Linked DNA regions of Homo sapiens: all the other regions are linked to region 4. The links come from fine-mapping of genetic effects on gene expression. A gene starts in region 4. Each other region holds a variant in brackets. All regions are shown on one strand. Distances are from middle to middle.

Region 1 (2,605 bases), 71 kb before region 4:
TCAAGACTTTTCTAAAAATAATAATAATAATAATAATAGGGAGAAGATTTGAAATGTTCTCAAGACGAATGATAAATGTTTGAGATGATGGATATTCTAAATAATTTGATCATTACACATTTATGCATATCTCAAAATATCACATGTACTCCATAAATATGTATAATTTTTATATATCAGTAAAAAAGAATGTTATCAGTATAGTTTACACTTTTTAAATTTTAATAAAAGTTCCTTTAAACAAACAAAAGTGTTTTCTTCCATAGCAGTAAAAATGATTCCTCTCTATAACTATGTAAATGGATTTTGCCCCACAGAGACTAGAAATCACTGGAGGTCAAATCTTGATTTAAACTGATTTTAATATCTTACCAGTTTCCTCATTATTTAAAGAGTTATGTAAAGTGTTGATACATGTTTATTTTAAATTTCCATGAGAGTCATGAATTTGCCATTCTGAGACTATCTTAGCACTTTTGAAGATCATCCACTAAGCTGCTCCAGTGACTCTCCTGAAGGAGTCAGGTGAATTGCACTGCATGAGACAGGCACCCCATGAGCTGCCTAAGTCCAGGCACATCTTTTGTTAGTTCTCAGAGTGGCTTCCAAGTGGCAATGGAACCTCAACTTCTTTGCTGAGTGAACTTTTAATATCAGCAGAAATTATGTTTTATTGTATGTCAGCTTAAACATAATTTTGAAGGTCTTAGAAAACCTAAAACATGGAACTAATATTAAAGTGAGCTAATAAAAGGAAAATATTGGATACAAGCATTGAATACTAAGAATAATTTTAATTTATTTTCTTTTGCTTCTTATTTTCATATGCAATAGAGCAGCTATATCTTTCAGTCATTTTTGCCACTTTAAGAAAGTATAAAAGGATTGGGTGGCTGTAGAAAGTTGTGCTTTGTGTATTCAAGATCTTTGATGATCTGCTAAAATGCTTGTATATGACAGAAGTCAATTACCTATTCCCAATTTTCTGCAAAACAGAAATTAATTACTTTGATTAAAAGTAATAATAATATAGGTGGCTAAAACTATATCAGAACAATAGTAACAAGGAAAATAACCTGTATGTTTATTTTTCAAATGAAAAGAAATAGTCCTAAAGTAACAGTTTCTTCCAGTTAGAGGAAGAAAGAGCATAATGAAGGACAAAGCTCAAGCAGA[A/G]TGAATTGGATTTGCCTTGGTTTAAAGCATCTGAGTCTGAAAAGAAATTATGAAAAGAAATTATCTACTAAAATTTTGGCAAACTTTGGTCAGTTCTGATGGACCTGCTTTCTGGGTTTATTGATTAATGACTTCATTTACAACGTGAAAGGTTATTAATTATCATCTCTTCAATCTGCCTACAGATAAAAATTTCCATGTCTTAGAATAATTTCCTGTGTTTTGTTGACTTTATGATTATTAAAAAAAACAGAAGTACTAAGTTTCTGTGGAGCTGTATTATTTTCTTTGGTTTATTTTTTAATATTTTATTATAATTAGGTTAAGTTGCTAAATGTTGCTCCTCAGTCACCCAAGACCCTGTCTACATCAAGTGATCAATTCTGTTCCTACGACCTTTCGAATTTGCTCTCCCAAGATCAGGTCCTACATTTAGGACAAATAAAAAGTAATATTTTCAGAATATTATTTATACCTAGAACTATTATTAAGATAACCCCAAGAGCCCATGGAAAATAGCCATAATTTTTTATTTTACCTTATAACTAGGAGAGATGTTAGGATAATTAGGTTTGCTTGGCATGCTTCGTATTTCTTAACCAGCTCAGCATTTATTGTAAGAGCTGCAGAGGAGGCTGGGTGCAGTGGCTCACACCTGTAATCCCAGCATTTTGGGAGACTGAGGCAGGTGGATCACCTGAGGTCAGGAGTTCGACCACCCTGGCCAACACAATGAAACCCCCTCTCTACTAAAAATACAAAATTAGCCAGGCGAGGTGGTGGATGCCTGTAGTCCCAGCTACTCTGGAGGCTGAGGCAGGAAAATCTTTTGAACCTGGAAGGTGGAAGTTGCAGTGGGCCGCCGAGATCATGCCAGCCTGGGCAACAGAGCAGGACTCTGTCTCAAAAAAAAAAAAAAAAAGAAAAAAAGTCGGGTGCAGTGGCTCATGCTTGTAATCCTAGCACTTTGGGAGGCCAAGGCAGGCAAATCACCTGAGGTCAGGAGTTCGAGACAAGCCTGGCCAACATGGTGAAACCCCATCTCTGCCAAAAATACAAAAAATTAGCCAGGTGTGGTGACTCATGTCTGTAATCCCAGCTACATGGGAGGCTGAGGCAGAAGAATCACTTGAACCCAGGAGGCAGAGGTTGCAGTGAGCCAAGATTGTGCCACTGCACTCCAGCCTGGGTGACAGTGCAAGACTCCATCTTTAAAAAATAAAAAATAAAAAATAAAAAAAAACTGCAGAGGAGGAATTATTAAATCATAGAAAACATAGAAAACACTTAGCCCTCCCTGAATTAAGTTTGAATGGGTGAAATATTGTTAATATAAATATTTCAAAAACAATATGCTTTATGTGAAGGCCCTGGAGATTTTTCAGTGTGTTCACTATCCATAATATGTTTTTATCCTCAAGGAAAAATA
Region 2 (2,605 bases), 67 kb before region 4:
TACTAGAGACTTGTTGAATGGCTTTGTCAAAAATGCTAATAGTGATATGAACAACAAGGTCTAGGCTGAGGAGGTCTCAGATGGCGATGAGGAACTTGTTGGGAACTGTAGTAAAGGTGACTCTTGCTATGTTTTAGCAAACAGAGTGATGGCATTTTTCCCCTGCCCTAGAGATTTGTGAAACTTTGAACTTGAGAGAGATGATTTCAGGTATCTGGCAGAATAATTTCTAAGGAGCATTCAAGAGGTGACTTTGGGTGGTGTTAAAAACATTCAGTTTTATAAAGGAAGCAGAGCATTAAAGTTTGGAAAGTTCACAGCCTGAAAATGCAATAGAAAAGAAAGACCCATTTTTTGAAGAGAAATTCAAGCCCACTGCATAAATTTGCATAAGGAACGAGTTAATTAATGAATGTTAACCCCCAAGCAATGGGGAAAATTTCTCCAGGCATTCAGAGGTCTTCACAGCAGCCCCTCCCATCACAGGCTTGGAGGTCTAGGAGAAAAAGATGGTTTCCCAGGCCGGGCCCAGGGTCCCTCTGTTGTGTGCAGTCTAGGGACTTGATCTGCATTGCAGCCACTCCAGCCATGACTAAAATGGGCCAAGGTTCAGCTCGGGCTGTTGCTTCAGCGAGTGGGAGCCCCAAACCATGGCAGCTTCCATGTGGTGGTGAGCCTGCAAGGGCACAGAAGTCAATAATTGAGGTTTGGGAACCTCCACCGAGATTTCAGAGGATGTATGGAAATGCCTGGATGCCCAGGCAAGAGTTTGCTGCAGTGGTGGGGCCCTCATGGAGAACCTCTGCTAGAGCAGTATGGGAGGGAAATGTGGGGTCAGAGCCCTCAAGCAGAGTCCCTACTGGGGCACCACCTAGTGGAGGTGTGAGAAGAGGGCCAAGGTCACCCAGATCCCAGAATGGTAGATCCACTGACAGTTTGCACTGTGCACCTGGAAAAGCCGCAGACACTCAATGCTGGCCCATGAAAGCAGCCAGGAGAGGGGCTATAACCTGCAAAGTCACATGGTCGAAGTTGCCCAAGACCATGGGAAGCCACCACTTGCATCAGCATGGCCTGGATATGAGACATGGAGTCAAAGGAGATCACTTTGATACTTTAAG[A/T]CTTGACTGCCGGGTTGGTTTTTGGACTTCCATGGGGCCTGTAGCCCCTTTGTTTTGACTAATTCCTCTCATTTGGAATGGCTGTATTTACCCAATGCCTGTACCCCCATTGTATCTAGGAAGTAACTAACTTGCTTTTGATTTTACAGGCTCTTAGGTGGAAGGGACTTGCATTGTCTCAGATGAGACTTTGGACTGTGGACTTTTGAGTTAATGCTGGAATGTGTTAAGACTTTGGGGCACTGCTAAGAAGGCATGATTGGTTTTGAAATGTGAGGACATGAGATTTGGGAGGGGCTGGGGCAGAATGATATGGTTTGACTCTGTGTCCCCACCGAAATCTCATCTTGTAGCTCCCATAATTCCCACGTATTGTGAGAGGGGCCTGGTAGGAGATAACTGAATCATAGAGTCGGCACTTTCCTGTGCTGTTCTCATAATAGTGAATAAGTCTCACGAGATCTGATGTTTTAAAAAATGAGAGTTTCTGTGCACAAGCTCTCTTCTCTTATCTGCCACCATATGAGATGTGCCTTTCACCTTCTGCCATGATTGTGTGGCATCCTCAGCCACATGGATGGAACTGTGAGTCCATTAAACCTCCTTCTTCTTTAAATTGACCAGTCTTGGTTATGTCTTTATCAGCAGTATGAAAACAGAGTAATACAATATTTCAAATAATAGATTCTTGAATACATAATTCCAAGATTACACAGCTTAGAGAACCTCAGACTGTACCAGTGGGCTAAGCAGGATTTCCATGTCTAGTTTTACTCAGGAAGCAAACAGCTTTATGAAGGCAAACTACTACTGATGGAAAACCCAGTAGCAAAGAATTAATTACAGTATTACGTTAAGTCTCCTTTTTTCCAGGTTTTTTATCTTTACTGAATTTTTTTTTTTTGTTTTTGGCCAAAGAAACTTTTTGATCAAAAAGTTATTCTCTACTGGTAGCAGCAATAATTGAGAATTTGGTTTTATGCACTCACAATTTGGGTTATTTTTCTAGATAAATGATAGACATCTATTCTCTTTTGAGAGAGATGACAAATAATCCCATTTGACACCCCTTTTCCTTTATTTGTCCACGTTTATCTCAAATCAACTAAGTATTTGGTGCACACTGAGAAGAAAAAGAGATTTTTTATATCTGTAATGGTGATGTTTTTGTTTTTGTGTCTATTTTTTATTACTCTCTAGAAAGCATTTATTAACATTTACTTTAATTTTCTTTCCGTATTCTGGAAAATAAATATAATACACAAAATGCAATAAAATGCTCTCTTCCCATTTCAAATAAATATAATTTGCTCTTGCAAAACATGTAATAATCTGTGTAATTCACTACAGTATATGTGTTAGTCCGTTTTCACACTGCTATAAAAAAAATACCTGAGACTGGGTAATGTATGAAGAAAAGAGGTTTAATTGACTCAGTTTCACAGGCTTAACAGGAAGCATGGCTGGAAGGCCTCAGGAAACTT
Region 3 (2,605 bases), 21 kb before region 4:
CAGAATAATAGTGACCACATTTACACTCCTGCCAGAAACCAAGAAACTGGACAAAATATGCAAAATGATTATTTTCAGTACCCTGAACATTAGTCAACAAAAGACAGTGATTCCTGAGAGATAGAGAACAAACAAAGTGAGACCTATGATTGCCCAGGTATACTCCTTTGGGAGAGTTCCTGGCTCTGGTTCAGGGAAAGCAAACCCAGGAAAAGCCTAGAATACTATCTGATGAGGAGACAGAGCTGAGAGTCCAGGGAAACTAAGGTAGCTAGGGTTTTCGGTAGAGAGTACCAGAAAGTCAACAACTGCAGAGGGAGAAAACTGAGATCTGCAGAGGGTCTCTCTCAAGTATTCTACAGGATACTGATCAGTGCGTGGGTGAGGGGAAACAATCTGAGACTGAGGAAAGAACTACCCAAAAGGATTAGAGGAAACAGTACACGGCATTCACAGTGACTAGGAATAGTACCTAATCATACCAGCCAGGCTGGAAAACCTCACAATTCAGGGGGCATTGGGTAGAGTACTCCAAAAGATCTTCCTCAGTGTTTAGAAATAATGAGCCATAGTCTAAATATGACTCAGGTCCCACCTAACATATATTAAAAGCAATACCTGAAAGGATCTAACTGTTTCCAAGTAACTTAATTGCATCCCTGAACAAAGCTCAAGAACATTTATAGAAATACAAAAATATCCAGCACACAAGGTAAAATTAACAATGTCTAGCATCCAGTAAAAAATTACAAAACATGAAAAGCAGGAAAATATTAACTAAAATAAGGGGGTAAATAAATAATCTGAAAATGACACAGAATTAATAGTGATGTTAAATTTAGCAGTCAAAGGCATTAAAATAGTTATTCCAAAAAATTAAGTAAAAACATGGATGATATAAAAGAGACCAAAATAAAACTTACTTTAAGGATTAAAAATTACAATGTCTGAAATTTAAAAAAAAAACATTGAATGGGATTAACAACTGATTAGACATTGCAGAAGATGCATAAACTTGCTGGTGATTAATACATTCAGATTTTTTAAGTCTAAAAATTTATCTACTTTGCCTTCATTTTTGAAAGATATTTTCAGTGGATATAAAAGTATATTGTGTAGAATGCTAAACTGACATTTTTTTTTTCAGTACTTTAAAGAAGTTACTCCATTGTCTTCATGCTGGCATTGTTTCTGATGATGAATTTGCTGTTATTCTTCTCTTAGTTCTTCTGTATGTAATGTCTCCATTCCCTGTGCCCCTCATCCCCCCAAATGTTTTTCCCTTTGTTACTGGCTTTGAGCAATTTGATGTTGTTGAGCAATTTTCTTCAAGTTTCATTGAGTTTCTTGAATCTGAGAGTTTATCATTTTCATGATATTTGGAAAGTTGGGAGCCATTATTTCTTCATGTATTTTTTCTATCCCCCTCCTGGGAAACCCCTAGTACATGTATATTATACCCATGACTCACTTTTCAATTTTTTTCTATGTCTCTTTTTTTTTTTTTTTGAGACATAGTCTCACTCTGTTGCCCAGGCTGGAGGGCAGTGG[C/T]GCAATCTCGGCTCACTGCAACCTCTGCCTCCCATGTTCAAGCAATTCTCCTGCCTCAGCCTCCTGAGGAGCTGGGACTACAGGCACCTGCCACCACAGACAGCTAATTTTTGTATTTTTTAATGGGGTTTAACCATGTTGGCCAGGCTGGTGTCGAACTCCTGACCTCGTGATCTGCCCACCTCAGCCTCCCAAAGTGCGGGATTACAGGTGTGAACCATCGTGCCTGGCCTTCTCTGTGTTTCATTTTGGATAGTATCTATTGCTATGTCCTCAAGTTTATTAATTTTTTTTCTGCAATGTCTTACCTTTTGTTAATCCTATCTAGTGTAATTTTTATTTCAGAAATTATAATTTTCATCTCTAGAAGCTCAACTTGGATTTTTTTGCTTGTTTGACACTGTGCAACCCCCTTCGCTACACACAGCCCATGGGAAGGAGGCTGGGCAATGGTTCAAGGCTCAAGTTTACACTGGCATGGGTACGCTATGAGGCCCACAGAGAAGGGCCCCCAATGAACCCACTACCATGCTGTTGGGTTTGTTTTATGTCTTTCGTTTCTCTACTTATCATGTTTAATCTTTCACCTAAGTTTCTGAATATATGAGATACAACTTAAGATGACCATTTTGATTTTGTTTTTCTGCTTCTATCATCTATGTCAGTTTTGTGAGTTTCAGTTGATATATTGTCCTCCCTGTTATGGCTCACTTTCTCCTGTATACTTCTTTATATGTTTGGTAATTTTTATAGGATCTCAGTCATTGTAAATTTGCTTTATTGGGTGACAGATATTTGTGCATTTCATAAATATCCTTGAACTTTGTTCTGTAATACAGAGTTATTAGAAAGAGTTTGACACTTTCAGGTCTTGCTTCTAAGCTTTGTTTGGCACAACCTGAGCAATGTTTCAACTAGGGGGCTTTTTGTCCCACTACTGAGGGAATACCTTTCTGATTACACTACCCAGTGCTCCACAAACTGAGGTTTTTCAGCCTGGCTGGTCATAACAGGCACTATTTACATTCCTGTGTGAGTTCTAGGTACTGTTCCC
Region 4 (2,605 bases):
TTCTACATTTCTGACCCTGAGTGCTGATTTGGGTGAATAGACCATTGGCTTTACCCATAGGAACCTGGCTGCCTGAGTCAGCAACATCTGCTCTCTGGAGCCTACTGGGAGGCTGGGGGTGGGGGAGGAAGATGGTCTAGGCCACTGAGTGGGGCAGCAGAGCCTGGGGACTAGGAGTGGTGAAAATCAGCCACATTGAACATATGGGTGTCTTCTCAAGGAAATGTGACATATGCGAGAGAAAATGGAGTCTAGAAGGGATGAGGAAGAGGTGATCAAGGGAGTGAGGGGTTCTTGGAGCCAAGGTTCCCTGATTAAGGCTAGTCAGGGTGGGCCTGCATTTCCCCACCCCAAATGCCCGCAATACTCCTGTAGACAACTCTTAGGAAATTCAGCACTTCATTATACACTGCTTCCACTGGAAAATCCTGCCACGTAAGCAGCTTTGGGTCCCAGCTAGATTGGAGATGATCAGTAAGGAACCCTAATGCTACCAACACAAGACAACTAAGAAAAGTGCAAATATTCATGAAAATCGTTGCCAACTGTTTTGTAATCCTCACCACAATCCTGCAAGGTGGACAGCAGCATCCTCACCACTTTTCAGACAGGTAAACAAAGGCTCAGAAAGGAAACAGTACCTGGTTGGAATCAGCACTGAAGCTTCAGCTACCTGCCTGCAGAGATGTGCTCATCTAGCAGTTTCTAGGAGACTAGGCTGGCGGCAGTGCCTGCTCTGATAAGGGAGGAGGAGGGGAGAGGCTTGCTGTGGTGGCTTGTAGGGGGTGTGTGTGTGTGTGTGTGTGTGTGTGTGTGTGTGTCTATTTGTGGGGTCATTTCCAGGGCTACATGTGAGTTTAAGTGTGTGTATATGGGTTGAGATATGGTGTATATGGATATTTGTCGGTCAGTTCTTGGAAAGTGTGTATATGAGTGTGTGTTGAGTGGGGTTGGGGGGTTAGTCCCTGAGCCGTGTGAATATGTGGATGGGGGCACTCGTGAGGGCAAATGGGCTCGGATTTTGTGCATGATTGTGTGTGTGTGTGTGTGTGTGTGAGCTTGAGATTCCAAGTATGTGGGGGAGGGAGGGGGCGGTGTCGGAGATCAATCCCTGGGCCATGTGTTTATAGTGTGTGTGTCTGCCCAGAAGAGAGTGGGTTACTGGGCTGTGCACGTCTGTGTAGGGTGAGTGTGTGTATGAGGGTGAATGAGTGTGGGAGGTGTCATTCCCTGGTCCGTGTGTAAGAGTGTGACCGCGCACGCCTTCGTGTGTGTCCCGGGTGTGTGGGGTCGGGGCGGTGACGAGGTGAGGGGGACGCCGGCCGAGCCCCGCCCTCCGCTGCAGGTGGGCCGGCCCCGCGGCGGGGCCGGCAGCGCTAGCTGTTCTTGGCTCGCGGCCGCGCCGGGCTCGCAGGGCTGGGCTCGGGCTGCGGGGCGGCGCCGGGACAGGAAGCGGAAAGCAGCAGTGCAGCGGCGGCGGCGGCGGGGCTCTGCCTCTCCAGGAGCCCAGCGCAGGCCGCAGAGCCGGGGCCGCTGTGAGCCGAGACCGCGGGCCGCGGAGCTCGGGCGGCCGGCGCGGAGGTGAGTCCCGCGAGAGGCCGAGCGCTGCGCGGCGGCGGTCCCCGGGGCAGACCGTTGGCTGGGAGACGCCCCCACCTCGGACCCCGCGTGCCCCTGCGCCCTCCTCCCGCATTCGCCCCGCCGGACTTCGACCCCGGGTGGCCGGCTCCCGCCTCGGGCCGGGGGCTCCCTCCCCTCCTCCGGAGCGCTCCGGGTAGTGCTTCCTCTGACTCCACTCTTCTCCCCATGCGTTGCGCCCCTCCTGGCCCTGCCGTGCGATCTCCGCCGCACCCCACTCCTTGGGGTCCCGGGGTTCCCTGCTCACACCTCGGACGTCCCTTTCTCCCCGGGCTGGCCTTTGGAGTGCGCCCCTTCGGTGCGCGTGCCGGGGCGGCGGGCAGGCCGGCAGGGAGTGGCCGAGCGTTGGAGGCACCGGGCGGCTGCAGCAGCCGTGCAGGGCGGGAGCCGGGCGCGCACCGGGGTTCCCACCCCTGGCGGGGCTCGACCCGGGCGCCGCCTGGCCCTTCGCCAGGAACCGGGACAGAGCTGGTCTGTGTGCACACCTCGCTCACAAAAAATTGAGCCGGCCCTGGAGGCCTGGGGGGCGAGTCCGGTTGCGCCTCGGAGAGCGCAACAGGCAGGTAGGAGTTTACTTTCAAAAACGCCGGGGTGGAGCAGAGGCGCCTGGCGGGTCTCTGCCCAAGGTGTCCCTGCTGGAGGAAATCTCACCGCGCCGGGGCAGCCTTCGCCACCGGCAGGACCTCATTTCCTTCTGCAGTCTTTGAACTGCCCCAAGCATCGCGCCTAGAGAAGTGTGAAGCTTTATAAAAATTTAAACGCGTCCGTGGTGGCGGCAGCAGTGGGGCGGAGCCGCGGCCTGGCTGCTGTGTGATGAGCAGATGAGACTTGGAGCTGAGGAATCTGTTGCTCAGTTTTCACTTCTCCAAACCAGGTCTAATGCCCACGCTGCGAAGGTGTTGTGAGCTCTCTTAGATTCTCCTTAGGAAGTGTTAGAGCGCCTTATGATGATGATTGTGTAGATGGC

The links.
Region 1: its variant is fine-mapped to the expression of VANGL1 in whole blood (TOPMed, PIP above 0.99).
Region 2: its variant is fine-mapped to the expression of VANGL1 in whole blood (TOPMed, PIP above 0.99).
Region 3: its variant is fine-mapped to the expression of VANGL1 in whole blood (TOPMed, PIP above 0.99).

Annotation. Positions count from the first base shown.
Region 1 is chr1:115,569,405-115,572,009 of GRCh38, forward strand. No RefSeq gene overlaps it. Among named protein-coding and RNA genes, the nearest start is that of VANGL1, 71 kb to the right of the region's middle. The variant A/G (reference allele first, on the strand shown) is at 1,177.
Region 2 is chr1:115,573,043-115,575,647 of GRCh38, forward strand. No RefSeq gene overlaps it. Among named protein-coding and RNA genes, the nearest start is that of VANGL1, 68 kb to the right of the region's middle. The variant A/T (reference allele first, on the strand shown) is at 1,122.
Region 3 is chr1:115,619,923-115,622,527 of GRCh38, forward strand. LOC124900438 (small nucleolar RNA SNORA42/SNORA80 family) reads right to left here and starts at 2,083; the gene lies at 1,950-2,083. The variant C/T (reference allele first, on the strand shown) is at 1,552.
Region 4 is chr1:115,640,506-115,643,110 of GRCh38, forward strand. It overlaps VANGL1 (VANGL planar cell polarity protein 1), which reads left to right and starts at 1,465. Exons shown (of 8, transcript NM_138959.3): 1 at 1,465-1,581. RefSeq lists a silencer at 1,197-2,186 and an enhancer at 1,322-2,080.